Homo sapiens: one gene and its partners. The protein of the gene in region 1 purifies or fractionates together with the protein of each later gene. This does not show direct contact. Each region holds a gene or a part of one and is shown in the gene's direction. Other genes may lie near its edges. The genes, in order: LARP4, NBEAL2, DRG1, MCTS1, TPST2 and FBXO10.

Evidence for each region.
Region 2: the proteins of LARP4 (region 1) and NBEAL2 purify together in Homo sapiens (tandem affinity purification; one large-scale study listed by IntAct). This does not show direct contact.
Region 3: the proteins of LARP4 (region 1) and DRG1 fractionate together in Homo sapiens (co-fractionation; one large-scale study listed by BioGRID). This does not show direct contact.
Region 4: the proteins of LARP4 (region 1) and MCTS1 fractionate together in Homo sapiens (co-fractionation; one large-scale study listed by BioGRID). This does not show direct contact.
Region 5: the proteins of LARP4 (region 1) and TPST2 purify together in Homo sapiens (affinity purification with mass spectrometry; one large-scale study listed by BioGRID and IntAct). This does not show direct contact.
Region 6: the proteins of LARP4 (region 1) and FBXO10 purify together in Homo sapiens (affinity purification with mass spectrometry; one large-scale study listed by BioGRID and IntAct). This does not show direct contact.

The regions. Positions count from the first base shown.
Region 1 is NC_000012.12:50,473,885-50,477,194, forward strand, and holds part of LARP4 (la-related protein 4), read left to right. Parts: intron 1-114; coding exon 115-283; intron 284-1,641; coding exon 1,642-1,980; 3' UTR 1,981-3,310. UniProt on the Homo sapiens protein: RNA binding protein that binds to the poly-A tract of mRNA molecules. Associates with the 40S ribosomal subunit and with polysomes. Plays a role in the regulation of mRNA translation.
Region 2 is NC_000003.12:46,989,666-46,993,165, forward strand, and holds part of NBEAL2 (neurobeachin-like protein 2), read left to right. Parts: intron 1-3; exon of another isoform or gene 4-1,227; coding exon of another isoform or gene 1,228-1,243; intron 1,244-1,553; coding exon 1,554-1,639; intron 1,640-1,740; coding exon 1,741-2,023; intron 2,024-2,174; coding exon 2,175-2,281; intron 2,282-2,809; coding exon 2,810-2,890; intron 2,891-3,500. UniProt on the Homo sapiens protein: Probably involved in thrombopoiesis. Plays a role in the development or secretion of alpha-granules, that contain several growth factors important for platelet biogenesis.
Region 3 is NC_000022.11:31,432,778-31,434,952, forward strand, and holds the end of DRG1 (developmentally-regulated GTP-binding protein 1), read left to right. Parts: intron 1-1,094; coding exon 1,095-1,194; 3' UTR 1,195-1,675; downstream 1,676-2,175. UniProt on the Homo sapiens protein: Catalyzes the conversion of GTP to GDP through hydrolysis of the gamma-phosphate bond in GTP. Appears to have an intrinsic GTPase activity that is stimulated by ZC3H15/DFRP1 binding likely by increasing the affinity for the potassium ions.
Region 4 is NC_000023.11:120,614,101-120,617,600, forward strand, and holds part of MCTS1 (malignant T-cell-amplified sequence 1), read left to right. Parts: 3' UTR 1-3,500. UniProt on the Homo sapiens protein: Translation regulator forming a complex with DENR to promote translation reinitiation.
Region 5 is NC_000022.11:26,521,496-26,524,132, reverse strand, and holds the end of TPST2 (protein-tyrosine sulfotransferase 2), read left to right. Parts: 3' UTR 1-2,137; downstream 2,138-2,637. UniProt on the Homo sapiens protein: Catalyzes the O-sulfation of tyrosine residues within acidic motifs of polypeptides, using 3'-phosphoadenylyl sulfate (PAPS) as cosubstrate.
Region 6 is NC_000009.12:37,569,881-37,573,380, reverse strand, and holds part of FBXO10 (F-box only protein 10), read left to right. Parts: intron 1-3,500. UniProt on the Homo sapiens protein: Substrate-recognition component of the SCF (SKP1-CUL1-F-box protein)-type E3 ubiquitin ligase complex. Mediates the ubiquitination and degradation of BCL2, an antiapoptotic protein, thereby playing a role in apoptosis by controlling the stability of BCL2.

The DNA.
Region 1 (3,310 bases):
GGGTGACAGAGTGAGACTCCGTCTCAAAAAAAAAAATTACGTTTTCTTCTGATTAGTTGCTCAACTGTTCCTATATGCTATTCTGAGTCTAATTGCAAGCTCTTTTTTCCTTAGCACAACTCAGCAAGAAAAGGATCTAATAGAAGATTCCTCTGTTCAGAAGGATGGTCTCAATCAGACAACTATACCAGTTTCTCCTCCAAGTACTACAAAGCCATCGAGGGCAAGTACTGCTTCACCATGTAATAATAACATAAATGCAGCTACAGCTGTGGCTCTACAGGTAACTTGAAGATTTTAGTTTATGTTAAAAAAAATACAATAGATTAGATTTTTTTTTTTTTTTCACGTAACACTTTGTTAGAACAGAGTCATTTGGAAGTAGCCCAAGTTGGGGCTGACTATCAGAAAGAAGCTTAAGGAGTGTTAGGGTCACTGCAAAGAGATGGAAAGTTTTAGGCTTTTTTTTGTTTTGTTTTGGAGACTGAGTCTTCACTCTGTCGCCCAGGCTGGAGTGCAGTGGCACGATCTCGCGTCACTGCAAGCTCCGCCTCCCGGGTTCACGCCATTCTCCTGCCTCAGCCTCCCGGGTAGCTGGGACTACAGGTGCCCACCACTATGCCTGGCTAATTTTTTGTATTTTTAGTAGAGACGGGGTTTCACTGTGTTAGCCAGGATGGTCTCAATCTCCTGACCTCGTGATCCACCCGCCTCGGCCTCCCAAAGTGCTGGGATTACATGCGTGAGCCACCGCGCCTGGCCCATTCTGTTTCTTTTGATTGCTTTTTTTCTGTTCATATGGTTAAGTGAAGCTTCTTCCTTACCCACGTTAGGATGAATTTATCATTTTGGGGCTAACATAAAGAGGCCTTGTGCCTCTTGATATTCTTTTGGTTGTATATGTGATACTTAACAAGTCTATAAGTGGCCATTGAGAGGCCACTCCCATTTATCAAGTTCCAGAATTGTTTTATAGTTATATAATTGGGAAAATACAGAAAAGCAGAACAAAACACAAAATTTACCTATAATCCCTAGCATTTTAGTACAGCACTTTTAAAAATAGATTTAGAAGACTATCTTCTCATTCAATGATAGTAATAATACTAAAATAATAGCTACCATTTGAATGCTTACTATATATTATTAGGACTAGTGCTGAAGACTTTACATGTTTTATTCTGTTCTCACAATACCTCTATTCCACCTTTTTCAGTTGAGGTAATTAAGACTTTTAATGAGTCTTTTTATACCATTGGATTCTAACTGCTCTGCTGGGATTCTTTTGTCATCTTTCTTGGGGTTCTTTGTAGCAAGGAAACAGGAGCAGAAAGAACCATTTTATTTCATCATATGGCTATACCATTATTCATCTAATCTGTCCTTTGTTAGGCATTTAGGTCGCTCCCATCATTATAAACAACGCTGACATGAACATCCTTCAGTTAAATTCCTTACGTGAAATTATTGTATAATAAATAAAGATTGTACCAGTGTACTCTAAGCAGTATATATGAGAGTGCTTGTTGCCCTTTTCTGGAAGATAATCTGTGGTTTTCTTATGGTTAACACAATCATTTTTATACTTTATAATTTAAAGAATGTGTACCATAAATGTTTTTTTTTATCATCACTTCAAAGGAACCCCGAAAGTTAAGTTATGCTGAAGTGTGCCAGAAGCCCCCTAAAGAGCCATCTTCAGTTCTTGTGCAGCCACTACGGGAACTTCGCTCCAATGTGGTGTCTCCCACCAAAAATGAAGACAATGGAGCTCCTGAGAACTCCGTTGAGAAACCACATGAGAAGCCAGAAGCAAGGGCTAGTAAGGATTATTCTGGCTTCCGAGGCAATATAATCCCCAGGGGAGCAGCAGGAAAAATCAGGGAACAGAGACGCCAGTTTAGCCATAGGGCTATACCTCAGGGAGTGACTCGACGTAATGGCAAAGAGCAATATGTGCCACCCAGATCACCAAAGTAAAAAACAACAAAACTATTCAAAAACTTCACTCTCTTCCCATTAAACTTGAACTGTGGCTATATTGAACTGTTTTGGAGGGGAGGGGGTAGCCAGGAAGGAAACAAGAGAAAGTACGTCCATTTCATTATGGATTTTGGAGTTGTGAGTGATAGGATCCCAAAATTCATCTCTAATGTGGTTTTTAAATGCTGGAGGATTCCAATCAATATAAATATATATATATATATACACACACATATATAAAAAGTATAATTTTTCTATTTTTGTTTTTGGTTTTAATTTGCAGAGATTTGCTGCCAGGAATCAATTTTGAGGGTTCAGATTTAGCTTGGAAGAAAAAAAAGAAACATACATCCTTCAGTATAGGAGATGAGGGAATGAGAGAAAATATTTTTTGAAGAAGCATTTCTGTAAAATTAGAAATTACTTTTTTTAATCTATTTAAAGTTTGGCTTGAAGAATGCCATCTCTGACTATATGGCCTTGTATTGCAAAGCGGATCAGTGGCTGGGGTGCCTGTTGTGGGTGTGAGTGTGTACAAGAGCGATTGAAGCCAAATCTGTTGTCATGTTAGTAAATGATTTGAAAACTGAATGTAATACTTGAGTAGATTTTTTTTTCTAGTTTGAAATTTAGTCTGTCTTTTTGACCTTACTAATATTTCATTTAACAAGTTGTAAAACTCTGATTGTACTTAGAGATGTGACTACCAATCAGTTTGATACTCAAGGAAAGGGGGTTATTCAAGAAATTGAAAATTTCATCTTGGACCTCAGTGCATAGGTCAAATGGATTTCAGAGGTTTAAACTTCCCTGTGATTCCCCCGAATACCCCCAAAATGAGAAACAAAATTTTTTTTCTTACTCCATTTGTTACTCTCTGTTCTTTGACTGCCCACCCACAGAAAAGCAAAATAACCAACTACCTACTCAATTGTGTGTTTGTAATTGCTTTGAGCAGTCTAGTCAAATCATATAAATTGTTCTAAATTTCAGAATTGAACATTGAAGTATTAACTCTTCTGTTCACACATTTAGAATTTTAGCTCCCAAGATGGTAGGGCAGACTGACCGTACAGTAATTTATTTGTCGTTAGTGTTAAAGATTAAGCATAGTAACTGACTCTTAAGTGTTAAATAATGTAGAAGTAAAAAAATTTTTTTTAAAGGCTTAATTTGGGAGGGGGGACTTATTTCTGTTTACAGTGTATTACCTTCCTTCCCTCCTCTTCTCCCCCCACACCCAACAAAATACAGTTTGGAATTCACTGAAACAGTACCAGCAAGTCATGAGATTTTTTAGTAAAGATGAGAAAGATGGTTGAAGAAA
Region 2 (3,500 bases), on another chromosome or scaffold:
GCCATACACAGGAACCACTTGGTGGTGGCTGCATGCAGGACTGGGAGAACCAAAGACCAAGCAAGAGTTTAGGGACAGAGACAAGAGAAGACATCTTGGGCTGGAGCGAGGGCCTCCCATCAGGTGGAGGGGTGGGGTCAACCTGCCTACCCAGATTTCTCATCCTCTTTCCCCGCCATCTCCTGGATCCTTCTAGCCACTTGTACCCTACTGTGATCTTAAAACTCTCTGGTCCAATCCCTTTGTCCCCATAGCCTCCACGCATCTCCACCCATCCCGGAGACACAGGAGGTATCTCCACCTCCTGTTCCCTGGCTGCTGGAGGATCTGGTGCCCAGGACAGCTGTGGCTGCCTGTTCACAGGTGGTCCTGTGAACCTGTTCTCCCTGGTGACCCTCCACCCCTGGGTCCCCTCTCTCCTCTCATTGGAGGGAGACTGGCCAGGACTTTAGATAGGCTCAGGGTGGGATATGGCCTGGACAGAGGTGGGCAGGGCTGTGAAAAGGTGGTGACCTATTGGGATATTAAATGTCTCAGTGATGCCCCCATGGAGCTGTGGGCCTGGATCTAGAGTTGGGGCAGCAACTCCAGGAGGGGAGGCACCCCTAGGGAGCTCCTCGACTTTATTTTCCCATAGCCTGGGTGCTGTTATTAAAACAAACTGGATTTCATTTCTCCTCCCATCATATCCCTTGATGTCAACCTGACGTCCTCAAGATGAAATCCTACTCCTCCCACAGCCTTTCTCTCCACTTGCCCTGCTGCTCAGCCTGGCTTCTGTCCTCTCATTCCCAGACTGCTACCACTGACCCCACCTCAGGGTCTTAGCCCATGCTGTGCCTTCTCCCCTCCAACTGCATTCTCAGGTCTCCCCTCAAAAGCCCCATCCCCAAGGAGGCCTCCCACCCATCCAGCCGGAATCAAGCCCCAGCCCTACTCTTCCTCCTCTGCCAGGCATGTGACCCGGGGCTAGTCCCTTCTGCCCTCTGAGTTTCAGTCCCTGGCCTGGCATCCTGTCCAGTTTTGCTGGCGCAGGGCCAGGTGGGCCTCCTACGTATTAGGTTGTGAAAGCCCCTAGAAGTCCCAGGCAAAGGCATGGGCGTGGGGGGAGGTGGCATCAGTATAGTAGATACAGCAGAGTCCCCAGAGCACGGCATGGGAAGCACCAACCGTCACAGGGCAGAGGCAGCAAGAGATTTGCATCTGAGAAACTAAGCCCTGGTCATCATGGGGAAGTGGAAGGGTATGTGCTCATGCTGGGGCCCTCACTTTGGGGCTTAAGGATCTGGGAAGCTGGCTAGACTCTCAGGGCTGGTCTTTGTCACCCTTAAGTCCCCCAAAGAAGGGTTGTCCCTTTCAGGCCCTCTACTATACAGCCATAACTCCTTAGATGCCCCCCAGGGCAGAGCCAGCTCTTATCCCTCACACTGGATCTTTTACTTGGCCCAGCTCCCTCTCCCCTCCACCCCAGGGCACTCACCTCTTGTGCAGCCCCCTGGGTCCATAGCCCTGCAACCTTGGTGACATTACCCTGCCCACACCCCCCTACCCAGAGAGCCTACAGAATGCAGACCACTTGCCTCCCATACTGCTGTTACGTCTCATCCACCTCTTCTGCGCCGTCCTCGCTGGAGGAAAGGTAGGCTGGGAGGTGAGCCTGTGGACTAGAGAGCAGCTCTTTCAGTATCTCTCTGCTGGGTGAGCCCCTTGCCCACTGCCCATCTCTGTCCACACCTGCAGGAGAACGGGCAGATGGCTGTAAGTGATGGCTCTGTGAAGGGCCTGCTGAGTGTGGTGCGGGGCTGGAGCCGTGGGCCAGCCCCGGACCCGTGCCTAGTGCCACTGGCTCTAGAGGCACTGGTAGGTGCAGTCCATGTCTTGCATGCCAGCCGCGCACCTCCTCGTGGCCCAGAGCTTCGTGCCCTGCTTGAGAGCTACTTCCATGTCCTTAATGCTGACTGGCCAGCTGGTCTGAGCTCAGGCCCCGAAGAGGCCCTTGTCACCCTCCGGGTCAGCATGCTCGGTGGGTATGGGCTCCCAGGCTCTTGGGGAAGGGGCACCATGAGGGAAAAGCCTAAGTGATGATGGAAGGTCTGGATAGGGCAGCATAGGAAGGAAGGCTTAAGGCTGCCTAGAGGGGTCTGGGCAGGGCCTGACCCTTGACCCTTCCACAGACGCCATCCCCATGATGCTGGCATGTGAAGACCGGCCAGTGCTGCAAGCCACCTTCCTCAGCAACAATTGCTTTGAACACCTCACTCGGCTCATTCAGAACAGCAAGGTGGGTAGGGCCCAGCCTGGGGGTGAGGGTCTGGAAGCCAGAGGCTAGGGGAGCCACGCATAGGTGCCAGGCTGCTGCTGAGCAAACATGGGCTGGACAGAGTCAGTGTTTTGCAGCTGGTGGGATGGCTTGCAGTTCAGTGGGAGGGTGTGGGGCATGGACAAGGGCCCATCCCTTGGGGCCTCTATAGGACTGGGCTTGAGGCTTAGGACATCTTTGTGCCCCATGGAAGCGGGGCTTGTTATGGAAGGAAGGGAGCTGCTCTGGTGCCTTGTTTCCCTTTCCGTGGCCCCAAGTACAGGGGCTAGAGGAGGGCACCACTGCTTTCAGATGCAGTGCCTGCTCCCACCCGCTCATCCCCCCGACTGCCCATCTGAGCAGGGCACAGGGGGCTCAGCACCCTACTCTTCCCTAGTGCCGGGCAGGGCACCTGGCAGCTGCCCCTGGTCCTGCTCTAACCCCACCCTCTCCCATCTTCCTCCTCTCTTCTTTGCCTCCTCCACCCTGTGCCTCCCCACTTCCCCACAGCTGTACCTGCAGTCCCGGGCGCCCCCCGAGGGGGACAGTGACCTGGCTACCCGGTTACTGACTGAGCCCGATGTCCAAAAGGTACCATCCTGGGGCTGACCAGCTCAGACACCCCCTGGGACTCCCTCTTTGAGCTTTTCCTGCACTATAGCTGGGGAAATGAGCAGATGTGTGTAAGGCCTGGTGTGGTCTAGAAATGGGTGTGGGTCCTCCATGCTGTCTCGCCTGCCTTCCAAGTCCCCATCCTAGGGAACAGGACAGAAGGTGGTCTATCCCCTGCCTGGTGTTTGATTGGGTGTTGGGGGTCTGGCTGTGCCAAGCTGGATGGAACCTTCGAAACTCAGCCACCTACCTCATTTCTCAGAAGGGGAGACAGAAGCCCAGACACTCAAGGATTTGGCTATAGTCACAGAGAAAGGGGTCTCCCTCATGGTGCCATTTCTTTCTGTAGATTCTTGCACCCACCCTCAGCGGGTCACTGGGTGTCCCCCAGCCCCTGATGATGTGATCCCTGATTCACCTTGCATGTGGGCTGTAGGAGGCTGCAGGGTGTCAGCTGGCAGCTTCACAGCGGGCACCCTTTCTGGGGGCTCAACCTGTGGGCCCCAACCTCCATAGCCCCTACCCTGGCTCTGTCTTCATGAGGTAACCCTATGTGTTCACCGCATGTGGTCATTTTCTTAGAGCTTAC
Region 3 (2,175 bases), on another chromosome or scaffold:
CTCGAACTCCTGACCTCGTGATCCGCCCGCCTCAGCCTCCCAAAGTGCTGGAATTAGAGGCATGAGCCACCGTGCCCGGCCTGGAATATAGATTTTTTAAAGAGGTTTTGACTCAATGATAATATAACAACAATATGGCCACCTTTTTTACTCTTGGTACATAGTTCTTAGTCTCTGTGAGGCAGGTCTCGGTGTCTTATTCACCAGTTTTCATCTCTAGCACAACATATTCTTAAGTTTGGAGGCCCATGGATATAAATTACCTTCACATATTCCAGTAAATCGGGAGGACATATCAATTACAGTTTCTGGTTAGGGAGGAAGATTTTCCTGGCATGGCTGAAGAGGGAGGCCCTAATTTCTTGTCAGTACCCACTGATGGTTTCAGGAAACCCAGCAAAAACAGGTATTCTCTAACAGTCTATAAGTGATATTGTATCTGTAAGAATCAGTCTGAAATTTTCAGGGTATTTCTCTATGAAGATTAAAGACGGATTTTTTTTTTTTTTTTTGAGGCGGAGTTTCGCTCGTTGCCCAACCTGGAGTGCAACGGCATGATCTTGGCTCACTGCAACCTCCGCCTCCCGGGTTCAAGCCATTCTTCTGCCTCAGCCTCCCGAGTAGTTGGGATTACAGGCACCCGCCACCATGCCCAGCTAATTTTTGTATTTTTAGTGGAGACGGGGTTTCACCATGTTGGCCAGGCTTTTCTTGAACGCCTGATCTCAGGTGATCCGCACCCTTCGGCCTCCCAAAGTGGTGGGATTACAGGCATGAGCCCCTGCGCCCGGCCCAGAGTATTTCTCTATAACAAATCCATGCTTTCTTTTAATTTTAAACTAGGCTCTTTATACTAAACATGTTTTTTGTCTTTGACTTTCTGCAATAAGAGGAACCACACAACTTCCAGAAGTCTTTACCGGCTTTTATGTTAAGGCTTCAGTGTCTCATGCTGCTAGGGAAGATAAAGCTTTTGTAGGTCTATGGTTCTTAAGGGTATGATACTAAATCTGAGCAGAAGGGTGGCATCCAGGCAAATAGGGCAGAAGCTAGGTTATTATTTACACTGACTGTTCTTTTTCCCTTCCATGCAGTGCTCTGGTCTGGGGTCTCTCTGTGAAACACAATCCTCAGAAAGTGGGTAAAGACCATACGTTGGAGGATGAGGATGTCATTCAAATTGTGAAGAAGTGAAACCTTTCCCTTTTCCCATCTGCCGGACGAACCACAACAGCGTTCCCCATGATCAAGCACCCTACCCCAGTTCTTTCTGGTTTTGGCAGTCACTGGATCAGGATCCAGGGGAGGGAGATGGAGGCACCCAAACTGGAACTTCATTTGTCTTACCTTGGTGTCACCTTGTATGTCGAACTGCATAAAAGATCTGGTAGGCTGGTCAGCTACATGCAGCTCATGTGTCATTGTCAGAATTTGTTTTGGGATGGGCTGAATGAGGAAGGGTATATACGGTGAAGCAGCTACAGAAGGGATCCTTGGGAACTTCATCTTGAGTGTGAAATGGATAAAAATATGACATGCTGCATCTTACTTGATGTTTACTTATGGGAACCCCTTCCAAACTAGATATGGCTTTCAGTCCTTTCAAGTAGTCTTTCCCACATGATACTGGAGAGAGGAAGGACTTTATGTAAGTTAATTGATCACTCCCCGCAAGGCTAACCTATTTTGGGAGATCATGTAATTAAGTACTCCGACCAGGCAGATCAGGGTTTGAAATTGCAGGTCCACCTCTAGTTAGCTGTGGAGCCCTGAACAAATTACCCAACCTTTATGAGCCTCAGTTTCCTCATGTAACATGGGGATAGTAATAGCACTTACTTTCTGCGGTGGTGATTGTTAGTAATGGAGGGAGATGGTACTTATATGTCAAATACTGTGCTAAGCAATTTGTAAGTACTCAATGACTCTTGGCTTTTGTTGCACCGAGCCTTTTACTGGGCTGTCTGCCCTATGCAGAGCACAGCTGTACATCATCAGTGTTGGGTTGAATGTTGAGCTGAACTATGTTGCCACCTGGGCCACTAAAATGCTTTTTTCTTTTTCTTTTTCTTTTTTTTTTTTTGAGATGGAGTTTCGCTCTTGCTGCCCAGGCTGGAGTGCAATGGCATGATCTCGGCTCACCGCAACCTCCGCCTCCCGGGTTCAAGCGATTCT
Region 4 (3,500 bases), on another chromosome or scaffold:
TGGCTGTTCCAGCTGGGTCTCCCAGGATGTAACATAGGTGGACATAGATCCAGGGTCTGACCCTCAGCTTGAGAAACCATTTCCCACTGATGAAACTTGAGAGACTTGGAGATTCCCCAGTTAGAATATAAATGTATTAATTCATAGTGATAGGTCTGCCTATGGTAAACAATTAGGAAACAGGAAGTTACTTGGTAAACACAGGTATGAGCAAAGGAAGATTGATAAATTGGGGTAATATTTCAGTTGTGCTGAGGTAAGACTTGGAGAATTTTTCCTGCTTCATCATTAATTAGAATGCTTATCTCTGCCAAAATCTCATCTCTTTCCTAGCCCATAGAGGTGCCCTGATATTTTATTTCCTATATCCTTTTCAAGTTCCATGTAGTTTTCCTTATGTTATGACAGTTTTATTCTGCAGCTTACCATATTATTTATTCCTGGTCCACGAAAGTATAAATAGTCTCATCAGGAACTCATTTGTAAGTCATCTCCCAGGGGGGTTTCTTCAACAGATAGTTTAATTTTTTGCTGACTTACTGGCTTCAAATTCAGATGTCTCCCTATTTGGGGGAGGAGGCACCCTATTTGAGGCCTGTAGCTCCTTATGTTCTTAAAAAGAATATACAAGTCATTTATGTCAGAATCAAACTTTGAACCTTTATTTTTGTTGCTAAGAGAATGTTTTTTGACCAAGACTGCCTATGGAGTATTAGCAATGAAAAACAAAGCACACATATACATACATTAGAGAAGTAAAAACTTTTAATAGCTTGGTTTTTGAAATAATTCATCTTTGTGTCTAACCACTGTTACAGTGGGTGTAAGGAACACTTTTTAAATATTCAACATCAACATCTGTGCTTGTTTTTCTACTGTGCTGAGGTACACTGTGTTGCCTTGGTGATATGGACTAAATATGTATGTTCTCTGCTTCCCCTGGGTCTGAGGCCTCTGCTCATCACTGTTAATCAGGGATGTCACTCTACATGTGTGATCCTTGTCATTTTCTAAACATTAGGTCATACATGAAAGGCAATTCAAAGAGATTAAACTAGCAGATGTGTCAGCATCTTTAGATACTGTGCTTAATGGAAACTTAGTTTACCTATATTCGTGAGAATAGGAATACAGGGATAGAGAGCCTGCTTCTCTCAGGCAGTGTGTCTTTAGTTCATTTTTAGTTTCAAAATTAAGTTTGTGTCAAACCAACCTACAATCTAGTAACTTGTGTATTGGACTCACTTTTACTCAGACAAGGTCAGTTCAGCTCAATAGGTATTTATTGAGTATCTACTAGGTTCTAAGTGACGTGGCATGAAGATGAATAATACAGAAGTAGCCCTTGCTCTTAAGGAGCTTCCAATCTAGTGAGTAAAGAAAATTTACATTTTAAATAATCTGGGTAATGGTGACAGCCCAATACTAATATGTAAAGCCAGTAGGAATGTACTAATCCTTTTCCAATTTTAGTCATCAAAAATTGTAAATTACAAATGAACTAAATGTAGTAATATTCCATAGATTGTATCCAATGTGAGGGTAAAAAAAAAATCCCAGATGTCTTGGAGTTGCCGTGATTCAGCATCCCAACTCAGATGATTGTCCTGTTGTCCGGTGACATAATGGCCTGATCAGTTCTCTTCTAGCAGACTGTCTGTTATGGTGGTTTGGTAGTGGTCTGTTGGGAAGCTGCATTTTTCCTTTTCTGTTTTTATGCTCTGGACCCCAAACAAAAACAGCTGGATTTATCCCATGGGTAGTCATGAACATTTCCAATTTGAGGGATTTTATATTCCCCAAACAGAAGGTTATATGGCATATATCAAATAATAATGATATCCAGCCAGGTTCCCTGTCGTACCCAAATCAGTAACTGAAGATACGTATTTCTAAGTATAATACTTCAGAGGAAGAGATAAGAATTACAATTCACTAAATTCGTGGAGGTGTTTCATTATAATAAATATGTCACTTATTAATAATGTAGCAATTATATATTAATGGAAATATGAATGTATGCCCAAGCAAAATGTCATAAATATTTTAACTTTGTTTGTCTAGGTTCCTTAATTTTGAGACTATAATTATCAAGGCTCTTCAAGAAACTCAAAATGATTCTAATTTCTAAGTAGTATGCATTAAAACTGATATATAATGAAAGAAAAACAGTGAAAATGTATGCATCAGTTTCTAAAGAAATCATACTTGTCATTGTAGAGATGCATGTAAATTAAATGTATTATACATTTTTATACTTGTATGTATTTTATACTTTGTATGAATACTTTTATTACACTTTTTAAGGCAGGTAAAAGAATGAGTAGATGTTATCAACTATAACAACAATTTGTTGAATACTGTGTTAAAACCAAGTAAAGGACCACAACTCCACGAGATCAGGAATGAATGAAGAAAATTGAGGGCCAGTTTTTAAATCATTGTTGAGACTATTAGGTTCATCTGTCTGTTTAAGAGTCTGGCCTTAGGGAATATAATTTATGCATGTAAAAAAATACAGGAGATGATTCACTGGAATGTCTCTTAATAATACCATGTTCATTAAGAATAGGTCATTGGGAGGAAAAATAAATAAAAACATCTGAACTCATTAGTATAATTAATACTTGCCTCTTAGAATGAAAATTAAAGAACTCCAAATTTTAGCCTTGAATACTTTGAGAAATAAAAGATGAATTAGTGAAATAATTTCTACTTAAAATCTTAGTTGTTACAGAGAATGACATGCCTCACTATTAATGTCCAATTCTAATTAATGGATTGTTTTAGAAATGTATTTGTGAAATATAGCAAACATAGCTAGTAATACTAACAGGTGAAAACTGATATTTCAAATGACTAAATAGACTTAAGATTAGAGGAAGGTAGGAAAAGGTGTGCAACTAACAGAAGCAGTTAACCAAAAAATGAGCTTCAGGCATCAGTCTTATTTGGAAGACTGTAAATCAACAGGCTAACGTTCAAAATATGGCAGACATCTTAATATCAATATATGCTAAATTGGTTTATCTTTAGGCAGAAACAGAAAGCAAAAAATTAAACTCATCCAACTCATACATTTGTTGTTGTTGTTGTTGTTGTTGTTTTTGAGATGGAGTCTTGCTTCATTGCCCAGGCTGGAGTGCAATGGCACGATCTCGGCTCACTGCAACCTCTGTCTTCCGGGTTCAAGCGATTCTCCTGCCTCAGCCTCCCGAGTAGCTGGGATCCCATGCGTGTGCCACCACACCTAGCTAATTTTTGTATTTTTAGTAGAGACAGGGTTTCACCATGTTGGCCAGGCTGGTCTCAAACTCCTGACCTCAGGTGATGCACCCGCCTTGGCCTCCCAAAGTGCTGGGATTACAGGTGTGAACCACCACACCCGACCCAACTAATACATTTTTAAAATCCCATTTTAAAAGTAAAACCACAGTTTTCATATAACAAATGTTATTGCTCTTCATTTCATTCTCCAATTTTAAAATGCTTTACTTTCA
Region 5 (2,637 bases), on another chromosome or scaffold:
TTATTTTTTAAATGTTTGACACACAGTCTCTGATAAATGATCATTCACCAATCACCGATTACTCTCCTTGCTCTGTTAAGTGTGACACTGTCCCTTTGAGAATCTGGCGACAGCTATGTATCCCATCACCACACACCCCAAAAAAAAAATTTATGTCTGGTTCCAGGAGTTACCTTTTATGAGAAGTCCATCTGTGAAGACCCTGGATGTTCAGAGAACTTCCTGGGAAAACACTGAAAGAAAATAAAGAGGCCGGGCCCGGTGGCTCATGCTTGTAATCCCAGCACTTTGGGAGGCTGAGGTGGGCAGATAAGCTGAGGTCAGGAGTTCCAGACCAGCCTGGCCAACGTGGCGAAACCCCATCTACTAAAAATACAAAAATTAGCTGGGCGTCGTGGCGCATGCCTGTAGTTGCAGCTACTTGGGAGGCTGAGGCAGGAGAATTGCTTGAACCCAGGAGGCAGAGGTTGCAGTGAACCAAGATCATGCTAGTACACTCCAGCCTGGGCAACAGAGTGAGACTCCATCTCAAAAATAAAATAAATAAAACAAAATAAAATAAATACAATTTCTGTTTCTAGCCCCTAAGTGGTAGCACTGGGTCTTGTTCCCTGAAAAAAACTAGGCTCAGAATCCACTCTCATTTCATCTCCCCTGATTTGATCTGAAAAGATTTTGTTTAGAGTACTACATGAATATATTATAAAACATGGGACAATCAGAATTGATAGTAAGAAGGCAAGTGGCTCTATTTGTACTTCCTCTCAATAGCTCCTAAAGGTAATGCTACCATTTTCTGTTTGTACATAGTCTTCCAGACTTTAAATTTTTGAACATATAAATATTATCATCTTAAAGACGTATGGAAAAAACCATTTTGAATAGGTTATTCCAAAATGTAATTTAACAGATTGCTCTGGAGGATTGTTTGTTTGTTTGTTTTGGAGACAGAGTCCCGCTTGGTTGCTCAGGCTGCAGTGCAGTGGCACAAACACAGCTCACTGCAACCTCTAACTCCTGCAAACACAGCTCACTGCAACCTCTAACTCCTGCAAACACAGCTCACTGCAACCTCTAACTCCTGCAAACACAGCTCACTGCAACCTCTAACTCCTGCAAACACAGCTCACTGCAACCTCTAACTCCTGGGCTCAAGCAGTCCTTTCACCTCAGCCTCCTGAGTAGCTGGACCATGACACCTACCTAACTTTTTATTTTTTGTAAAGAGGGGAATCACTATGTTGCCCAGGCTGGTCTCAAACTCCTGGGCTCAAGCAATCCTTCCTCAGCCTCTCAAAGAGTTGGGTTTACAGGCGTGAGCCACCGCACCTGGCTCCTGGAGCATTTCTGATGTGAACATGTGCTGATCTAACACCACTCCTTTTACCAGCTGCCTGTTCTAGAGCAAACCATCTTTTTTGAGCATTCCACTTTGGCTAGGCCCTTAGGCTGTTAGCAGTTTTCATCGCTACTGGCAAAGCTGCAGTGGACGTTCTCCTGCACATATAACCTCTTGATGCCACTGTATGAGTGAGTCTCTGCAAAATGAGAAGTAGAATTGCTGGGGTGAAAGGCATACATACTAACTTTTTTGATTAATTCCACCCATGTACCCTGATTTGGGCAGAATTTTAATCTCACTGTGAAATCAGAGCTTTGTTCTAGAGCCTTTCTTGGGGGTTCCATGGATCAGTGGGTCAGCCGTCACTTGTGCCCTGGCCCATCCTCTGTCCAGCTTGGGCAGCATGCATCATTCATTCTGATTCCTTAATTTGCCATATGTGAAAACATGGTAATCTATACATTACTTGGGTGCTATTATTATATATAACTAGCTTTGGAGTCAGAATTAGCGTCTCATCCTGGCTCTACCACTTTCCAACTGTGCGACTGTGGCCAAGTGACTCCCCTTCTCTGAGCCTCAGTTTTCCTCTTCTGTAAAATGGGGGTAAAGGGATAAGAACTATAGGGGGATCTCAGGGGATGGTTAAGAGAAATCCATGAGATAAGCAAACACATTATCTAGTTTAGTAAAGCTAAGCAATGAAGACTTAACAGCCCCATGGTGAAGGCTTAATACATGGTAGCTATAATGATTACTATTAATATTGTGAAATAAAAGGTTGTGATGAACCAACCATATCTTCTCATCAGGATGTATGTTTGTCCAACTGATAGCCATTTGTAGTCATGATCTGGGGTTGGAGAAGGGTCTTCTGCACATGTGCCAGATGGACTGAATATAGATCTTCACTCTCGTTAGCAGCCACCAACCTGGTTGAGCCATCAGGGCCTCCAAAGGGCTTGGCAATTTTTCATTGAAAACAAAAAACAAAAACAAAAAAACTCTTAAACTATGTCTACCCAAAGAATAAATCCTCTACCCTTCCAGGGTAAGGGATGGACAGCTGATGGAATTACAGACCCAGGAAGCTCATGGTTGCCAGTCATTGGGTAGCAGAGGACATCCAGTCTCATTCATTGTTCCACTCATCTCTTGCGGCCCAACCAAGCAGCCCCAAACTGAGTGACTTAAAACAACTTGTTTTTTTGTTTGTTTGTATGTTTTTTTGAGAGCGTTTCACTCTTGTCGCCCAGGCTGGAGTGCAATGGTGTGATCTTGGCTCACTGCAACCT
Region 6 (3,500 bases), on another chromosome or scaffold:
TCAGCCATTCTCCCCAAAGCACCTCACTCTGGGCTTTTGTTGAGCTTTTCACCAGGCTGGGTTCCCCTGGTGTCCTGGAGAGTTCTCTTTTAGGGCATTTGGGGCCCTTCCTGCTAGCAACCTTGGTCATGGTCATCTAGACCACCCAAGAGATGTCTCTGTTTTCAAACTTCTTATCAGAGTTTGTGGGCTCAGTCCCTTCTCTTCTTAACCTTAACCCAAATCCCTTTGGCAAATTGGTTCCACATACTCTCCAGGGTTCTGCCTACCGATGATTCTCAGGAATGACAGCCTTCAACAAGATAGCTACCCCAGGACTTTGGGTGCCTACTCACCTTACTTTTCCATATGTAAAGAGGGGTCGTCAGGTCACCCTGAGCCACACAGATTTAGGCATTCTGGAAAATTTACTTGGCATGTACCCTGTTAGGGATTTTGCAGGCAAGGTTTTAATTTAAAAATAAAGGATTTTAGTTTTCTCAATTTTTCTAAGAAACAATAATCAGTATATTTATTTCATTTATTTGTTTTAAACTTTTTGAATATGAAATACAGCAAATATGCATGGTAAAAAACACAATATATAGTTTAGCAAATAACTCTAAAGGAAATACACACGTAATCACCAACATGTCAAGAACTGGAACATTGCCAATACTCAGTACCTGCTTCCAAATCATAATTTCCTCCCCTAGAAGAAATCATCTTGTGATAATCATTTTTTTGCTTTTCTTTGTAATTATATCACCTATGTATATATCCCTAAACAATATAGTTTTAAGTTTTTTAATTTCATACATATAGAATCATACTTTTGCATTTTGTGTTTTGCTTCTTTTGCTCAACTTGTTTGTGAGATGCATCCACGTGGCGGCCTCACTTATTTTCGTTGCCAACAGTGTTTCATGGTATGGCTGTGTCACAATAGATGTATTCATCCTGTGGTTGATGGATACTTGAGTTGCTTATAGTTTCTGACTGCCAAGTACATCCTTAGATATTTTCTGATGTATTTGAACAAGTTTCTTTAGGTTATATATGTTAGAGTACAATTGCTTTACTAGATAGTGTCGAACAGTTTACTTTCCTACCAGGAGTATATGAGAGTTCCAGTTGCTTCATATCCTGGCAAATAGTTGCTTTTATTGGTTTTAATATTTTAACTATTTTCATGTGTGTGTCTTGATATTTCTTGTGGTTTTAACTTGCTCTCCTTGGTTACTCTTGAGGTTGAGCACTTTTTTCTTTTTTCTTTTTTTTGGAAACAGGGTCTTGCTTTGTCACCCAGGCTGGATTGCAGTGGCGTGATCATGGCTTACTGTAGCCTCAACCTCCTAGGCTCAAGAGATCTCTCCCACCTCAGCCCCCTGAGCAGCTGGGACAGCCAGATAATTATTTTATTTTTTTTTGTAGAGACCAGGTCTTGCCATATTTTCCAGGCTGGTCTCAAACTCCTGGACTCAAACTATTCTCCCATGTCAGCCTCCCCAAGTGCTGGGATTACAGGTGTGAGCTACCATGCCCAGCCCTTGAGCAGTTTTTTGTTGGTTAATTGGATTGCCTCTTTTGTGAACTGTCTATTCATGTCTCTTGCCATTTTTAAATTTTTTAAATTGATTTTTCAATAAGGAAATATATATATATATATATATATATATATATATATGGCTCTCTTTTCACCCTCTTAAATGGTGATATCTTCGATCCCATTCTGTAGAAGCAGGGCATAAAATAGAGATTCTTGTTCAAGTGAGACTGTGGGAGAAGCCCTCAGGAAGAGGAGTATGAGGAAAGCTGGATTGGGGGAGGAGAGGCACAGCCTGGTGAGGGGGCAGTTGCAGTTTTCTGGAGAAAGGGACATCTGTGAGTTGTTCTCAGCTGACACCACATCTCAGTGACAGGTGTGCTAACCAGTAAAGATGATCTGGATGGAACCAGTAGTATTCTCCACAGTCCACTTCTTGTACCATACAGATAGGCTTGCTTCTTATATTAAGTTCACTGTATCCAGGTACAGCTTCTCCAGGATTCTGGTTAGTCACAAATCCTGGGAAAACTTATAAGAGGAAGATTAGTGAGACAAATTACAACCCTTGCTGCTGCAGTTGGTCCAGAAATCTAACAAATACCCATATCATCCTCTTCCACCATCCATTTTAGTTTCCCCTTCTTTGTCCCTTGAATGTATGATAGAACTTGGTGATGAAGCCACCTGGGCTCGCAGGTGTGTTTTCTTTGCAATCTTATTTTTGACCACAGACTCAATGTCTTTAATGGTTCTAGGGTGATTTTGTTTTTATAATTTCTTAACTAAGTAATATTTTCCTAGGAGTTTATCCCTTCATATTTACTTATATAAAGTTGTTTATAATTTTTTTTTTTTTTTTTGAGACGGAGTCTTGCCCTGTCGCCAGGCTGGACTGCAGTGGCGCAATCTCAGCTCACTGCAACCTCCGCCTTCCGGTTTCAAGCGATTCTCCTGCCTCAGCCTCCTGAGTAGCTGGGACTACAGGCACGTGCCACCACGCCCAGCTAATTTTTTGTATTTTTAGTAGAGACGGAGTTTCACCACGTTGGTCTGGATGGTCTCCATCTCTTGACCTCGTGATTCACCTGCCTCAGCCTCCCAAAGTGCTGGGATTACAGGCGTGAGCCACCGCACCTGGCCGTTTATAATATTTTCTTATCATTTGGTGTACAGCATCTATAGAGATATCCCCTCTTTCATTCTGATTTCATTTTAATGCTTTTTTTTCCTTCTTCTTTGGTTTTAGTAGAGGTTCTTTTCAGAGAACCTGCTCTTATCATCAGTGATAGTCTTCATAATAAATTTGTTTTCTGTTTCATAAGTTCTGCTCTGTTCTTTATTTTTCTCTTCTATTTTCCTTGGATTTATTTTGTTCTTTTTCTGACTTCTTGAAATTGATGTTTAGTTTCATTAATTTTTATCTTTTTGATTCTCTCTATTTAAGGTTATACATTTTTTTCCAAATTCTGTTTCAGCAGGAGTTCACAAGTTTTGATATGTGGTATCTCTGTTGTTTATTTCTTTTCTTTTTTTTTTCCGAGACAGACTTTCACTCTTGTTGCCCAGGCTGGAGTGCAATGGCACAATCTCGGCTCACTGCAACCTCCACCTCCCGGGTTCAAGGGATTATCCTGCCTCCTCAGCCTCCCAAGTAGCTGGGATTGCATGCATGCGCCACCATGCCCAGCTAATGTTTTTGTATTTTAGTAGAGACAGGGTTTTACCATGTTGCTCAGGCGGGTCTCGAACTCCTTACCTCAGGTGTTCCACCTGCCTTGGCCTCCCAAAATGCTGGGATACAGGCATGAGCCACTGCGCCCAGCCTTCTTTGTTGTTTATTTCTAAAAATATTCTAATTTCCATTGTAATTCTTTTTCTTTAACCAATAGATATTATATTCGAGAAATGTGTTTTGTAATATCCAAACATACTAACATTTTCTAATTATCCTTTATTTATGACTAATTATGAC